2 separate regions of the Homo sapiens genome follow, and region 2 is linked to region 1. Evidence: fine-mapped expression QTL. Tissue or cell type: monocytes after interferon gamma. Region 1 holds a variant in brackets; the other region holds the start of a gene. All regions are shown on one strand. Distances are between the middles of the regions.

Region 1 (3,012 bases):
AATGGTGAGAAATAAATGTCTCTTGTTTCTAATCCACCCAGTCGGTGGCATTTTGTTATAGCAGCCCACGCTGACTGTGACTGAACTCAGGGTGACAGAGCAGCAGCTCTGGGGCAAAGGGGAGGGTGGGGGCCACAGGGCAGCTGATGCAGGAGCAGGGCTCTGGCACAGTTCAGCCATCACCAATTCTGGGACTGCAAATTCAGTTTCTTCATCTGGAAAATTGAACTGGTAATACCAATACCTCTTTTCCCGGTTTACTAGACAGAGACAATGCAGTGAGGCACAAACATGCAACTGTTTGATTTTCCTCCCACCCATGCTCCCTGCTCAGTGACGTGTGATTTTCCTTTCCCATCCATAAACTGCGCATTTGGCAAACTCCAAACTTTTGAGTCACTTTTGGGTAACAAAGTCAGGTTTAAGATTTCCATCGCCTGCTTAATTGAATGCTCACCTGTCCTCTTCCCCCATGCTGTGAGGACCTTCATCACTCCTCTTCTGGGTCCCTCTCTCCTCTAGGTGTTGGGGCAGGGTGGGGAGGAAAGGGACCAATGTGTCTTTCCTGGTGATGCTACAGCCCTCTCTTGCTGACCTTGCTTCCTGGGCCATCAGTGCCCCCTGCACAGAACTCTCCAAACATCAGTCCACACCTTTGTAAAAACAGTCTCTCCGCTAAGCTATCCCAAAATGACCTGATTAGAGTGTGCAACGTCTTTCCTGCTGGGACTCTGACTGATACCCTGGTCTCCCTGAGTGATTTTCCTGCACACCCTGCTGGGGATGTGGAAGCCTGTCCCCCTCCCACCCCACACCCCACACTTGGCTGAGATCTCACAGTGGCAAAGATGTCTTTGAATCCATGGTGCCCAGGGTTCAGCGTGTAGAGTGAGGTGGGGTGTGTAGAGAGCTGGGGCAAGGAACCCTGAGAAGATGTCTTACCCCAGTTGTTTCCAGGTTTCTTTAGAAAGCGGGCTATTTTACCCCATGTGTCCTCAGATTTATGTCCTGGAACCAAATTCCAAATCAGCAGCCACATGAAAAGTCCCCTCCTCTCTGGCGTGGAATTAAACTGTTAGACCTGCCTTTGTGACCAAAGCAATTGTAAAACGTGGGGGAGGAAATTAAAAGCCTGCCACCTTAGTCCACACAGTGTGTGCTGTCTCTGTGTGTGTGCACGTGTGTTTATGTGTGTGTTGAATGATCACATGTTCCAGGGAGGATGGTGAGGGGCGAGGGGCAGTCCTGGCAGGTACCAAGTGGACACTCAGAGACAGAAGGGCTGCAGGTGGGCAGCCAGGCCAGAGGGGGGCAACAAGGGGCTGCCAGGAGTCAGACTAAACCCCGGAAGTGGAAGTGGAATGGCAGGAAGAGATGGGAATGGAGAGAGGGTCCAGCTGCCAGCTCTGTGGCACCCCCTCTCCTTCCCTCCCTCCCACTCTAACTCCCTTTCCCTCCCCACTCCCCATCACCCTCCCCTTTTGCTCCCTGTCCCCAGAATCCTTGGGAGCAAAGGGAGGCGGACAGGGACAGTCCACTCTGTGCTCTGCCCTGGCTGTTTAGTCTACGAAGGGCCCCAGGTTGGTTGGTGCTGCTCTGCTTCCCCC[T/C]GGTGGCCAAAGCTGGCAGCAGTGGCAGGAAACGGGGGCTGGGATCCAGACCTTCGCCTATGGGGTGATAAGAAAATGATCCGGCTGCAGCCAGGCTGTTGAGTGTGAGGGTCCGGGGGGAGAGCTGACAATTGAAACAGAGAACACAATTTGCATACAGTGACTTGCCAACATGCCCTGACTTGCCAACAAGGTGACGGTGCCTGGCCCAAACCATGATGTCCGTCTCCTGCACCCCAGCCAGGGGTAGAGATCATTCCCTGCTGAGCAATCCCTTTTCCTGTGGAAGACCACTCTTCACAGGGTCCTGCGCCTCCCCAGCTCAGACTCAGGGACACAGCACATCTGCCTAGGGCAGCCGTGGAAGGACATGGAAGGGTGTAACCATGCTCTTTCCAAAGAATGGGCACCCCTAACTCTCTCTTCTACCCCACTCCGGTAACCCCATCCTCACCAGAGACCCCTGCCCTCCGCACGCCCCTAGAAGTCCTTGTCTTCTCACAGGACAGCCTTCAAAACTGCACTCCATGCCCCGGAGAAGTGTGACTAGCACAGCCGGTTCTCCCAGGAACTCCATCTGGGAAGAAGTTGGGGTTCATCCACCACACCTGAGATGCCTGTAATTTGGATCCCACCAGCATGTCCGTAGGTAAGATGTGTCTGACTCCTGTGGAAGTCATGTGGAAAGGGAGGCCTGAGTTCGGGGTCCTTGTGTGGATCCAGAAGCAGAGGTAAGATGGGAAGCCTCAGCCAGCCTCCTAAGCCGTCCTCTCAGATCTCTGCACACCTCTCACCCACAAGCTTTTACTCCACATAAACCCAGATGCCCTCATTCACAGCACAGAAAGCACACAAATCCTGGAGTCAGAGGGACTTGCGTTTGAATCCCAGCTCTGCCACTCATCAATCAGGCGACCTTGGGTACCTGTTTTCTCATCATAAACAAAGGGGGTAACTGGCCGGGCATGGCAGCTCACACCTGTAATCCCAGCACTTTGGGAGATCGAGGCGGGTGGATCACTTGAGCTCAGGAGTTTGAGACCAGCCTGGCCAACATGGTGAAACCCCATCTCTACTAAAATACAAAAATTAGCTGGGAATGGTGGCACGTGCCTGTAATCCCAGCTACCTGGGAGGCTGAGGCAGGAGAATTCCTTGAACCCGGGAGGCAGGAGGCGGAGGTTGCAGTGAGCCGAGATTGTGCCACTGTACTGCAGCCTGGGCAACAGAGCGAGACTCCATCTCAAATTAAAAAAAAAAAAGTGGGGGGGGATGGTAACCATACTCACATCATAGTTTATTTATGCTGTTTCTCCTTGCTAGAATGAAAGTTCCCAAAAGGCAGGGATCTGTTTTGGTCACTGCTTTATCCTCCGTGCCCATCAGTGCCCGGCACATTCCTTTC
Region 2 (2,500 bases), 24 kb before region 1:
AATAGGCGCAGGAGGCTAGACAAGGGGCCTTTGTGTCTCCCAAGCAAAGGCCCCAGCAGGACTGCAGAGGCGGCTCAGCCACTATGGGCTGTGTGTCCACTCTGCTACTGCTCCTGGTGGGGCTGCAGCCAGCACCCTTCCTGGCAGCCAGGCCCAGTCAGCTGATATGGAGCCCAAGAGGGCCCAAGGCCCCGAAGGCCCGGGGCAAGTTCCTTGGCTACAGGAAGAGGCCTCCTCTGCACTTGTCCAGCCAGCGGAGCGATTGGCTCCATTTCACAGGAAAGAAGACCCTGCCAGGGAATGGAACTGGGTCAAGGTCTCCCAGAGTCAGTGCTGAAGCCAGACAGGAACCTACACTCCTGATTCCTAGACCAGAAATGAGAGAGAGGCGGGGTGCTCATTCATTCATCCATTCACACCTTCAAGGATTGAGCACCTCCCAGGACCTCTAGGACAGCAGCAGGAAGAAGGCAGACCTGGTTCCTGCCCTCGGGAGCTCACAGTCTCCGAACGGGTCAGACATGCAGCCGGTAGCCCGACCAGGGAAGGCCATTAGAGTGGGGTTGACGACAGAGAAGAGAGGTAAAGCAGCTCAAGATAAGGGGCCAGAGTGGGGAGTTCAGGGAGCTGCTGATAAGATTAAGGCAGGGAAAGTGGGGAGCACGGGAGAGGCGGGATCCTGAGTACCCTGCTTTCCTAACCACGGTAATGGAGAGAGGCACCCCCTTCCCCCACTTTCAAGCAAGGGAGGTACGTCCTTAGCCTGGGGTTCCGAGCAGGTATCTCCCAGTAGGTCCCTTCCTGGCCAGCCGGGCTGGGGCAGGGGCGGGACAGGGGTAGGGTGGCGCGGTGGCTGGGCGCAAAGGTCCCGCAGTGGGCCACGCAGGCACCGGGCTGACCTGGCAAAACTTTGGCGTCTCTGAAAACCTCTGGTAACCAGCTCCCTTCTAGCGTGAGGGAGCCGGGAGGCCTCCTTCTGGCCCGGCAGTGAGAGCGTCGCCGCCCGACCCTCCCGTTGCAGCACCGGTACAGACACGCTGACCCCGCGGCCTTGTCGCTGGGCGGCGTCCCGGAGCGGGTGGCGCGGTGTCTACCCGGGCGGGTTGAGGGCGGTGCCAGGGTCAGTCAAAAGTCCGCCCCGCCCCCTGCCTGGCCCGGCTTCGGGGTTGGGGAACAGCGCAGGGAGGTGGGTAGCCGGGCTCCCAGGCACGTGGGTCTCTGCGGCTGCGGCGGGACCCGGGCACTGGCACCCGGGAGCGGCGGCGACGGCACCCTGAGAGGAGAAGCGCAGCGCAGTGGCGAGAGGTGGGGTGGGGCGTCTGGAGGGAACAAGGCGCTGGGAGAGGCCCGGGGAAGCGGCGGGCCAGACTGGCGCAGGTGCGGACTGGGCGCGGGGCAGGGGAGGGCGCTGTGGAGCGGCTGTCGCCCCGGGGCACAGTTGCGAGCCGGCGTGTAGCGCATAACTGGACGGCTTGAACGCGCCTGTGGGTCCGTGGTTGAACTTTGTCTCCACGGGAGCGTCGGTCTCGGTGAGTGTGGACGGGCGCCCCAGTAGTGAGGCTGTGCGCGTCAGCGTACTGGGGAGGTCTGCGTGTTAGCGGGTGAGTGTGTGCGCCCCTCGGGGCGACTGGCCAAGCCTGCGGAACTTGTCTGTGTGTGCTCCGATGTGAGCGTCCCCGTGGCGTGAGGCGGTGGCCGGTGCCCAGAGACGCGAACCCCTGGAGACCCCCTACCACTGTCCTAACCCCAGGGTCACTCTGGGTGGCCACCTACCATTGGTAATGTTGAGGGGGCAGTTGCAGGGAGTGGGCGGGGGAGGAGGGAGTGGCCAGAAAGGACAGTTAAGCCTCTGTCCCCGGGCTTTTAATCTGGCAAATGGTGCGGTAGAAAGGGTCAGTCAGGAGAAAGGCGATACCCCACCCCCCAACCCGAAGGCTGCCAGTGGCCCTCTTGGGGTCCTCCAGGAGCGCAGCCCAAGGGTTGGGGACTGCTGGAGACCAGAATTGCCAGCTCGGGATTTGTGGGGTCCATGGCTGCTGTTCCTCTCAGCATGGCATCCCCAGCTTCCCAGGACCACAGCCTGATCTGCCTGGTTTGTTTTGGATCTAAGCTGAAATAATTATGAGTTTTGAGGATCTGGGTGGAGACCCAGGCAAGTTTATTACCTGTGGGTGGAAGTGGAAGGAAGAAGATTCTCTGAGCAGACAGGTCCACAAGAGAGCTCTGGAGACTCAGAGATCTATGTTCCAATCCTGTCTTGGCCACTGTGTGGCCTGGGCAAGCCGTCCTTTCTCTGAGCCTCAGTGGCCTCGTCTGTAAGAAGGGACTAATGATAAGGAATTTGAGGGCTGTTGAGGAGCTGATGAGTGTGTCATGTTCAGCACCAGTGTCCCCCCATGGGCAGGCTCACAGCTTGGGGATGGGAAGTCAGTCCCTGGAAGGAGCCTCCCAGAACCAGAATCCCAACTGTGCCCCTCCCTAGGGCACAAGCCTTCCACAG

Alleles and levels. Positions count from the first base shown, and alleles are read on the strand shown. Sizes are in standard deviations (SD) of each study's normalised expression.
With allele T in place of C in region 1, the expression in monocytes after interferon gamma of the gene that starts at base 1,154 in region 2 is lower (moderate effect, 0.45 SD a copy in Fairfax 2014).

What was found. PIP is the estimated chance that this variant, and not a neighbour inherited with it, causes the effect. A credible set is the group of variants that fine-mapping cannot tell apart.
Region 2: it holds the start of P2RY2, and the variant in region 1 is the best candidate, but not a certain one, in a credible set for the expression of P2RY2 in monocytes after interferon gamma (Fairfax 2014, PIP 0.64).

Annotation. Positions count from the first base shown.
Region 1 is chr11:73,241,188-73,244,199 of GRCh38, forward strand. It overlaps P2RY2 (purinergic receptor P2Y2), which reads left to right. Exons shown (of 3, transcript NM_002564.4): 3 at 1-1,240. Among named protein-coding and RNA genes, the nearest start is that of P2RY2, 24 kb to the left of the region's middle. RefSeq lists enhancers at 1,284-2,030, 1,676-1,915. The variant T/C (reference allele first, on the strand shown) is at 1,608.
Region 2 is chr11:73,217,128-73,219,627 of GRCh38, forward strand. It overlaps P2RY2 (purinergic receptor P2Y2), which reads left to right and starts at 1,154. Exons shown (of 3, transcript NM_002564.4): 1 at 1,154-1,305. LOC124902709 (a long non-coding RNA gene) reads right to left here and starts at 1,066. Exons shown (of 3, transcript XR_007062773.1): 1 at 900-1,066. RefSeq lists enhancers at 988-1,706, 1,707-2,425 and a silencer at 1,065-1,274.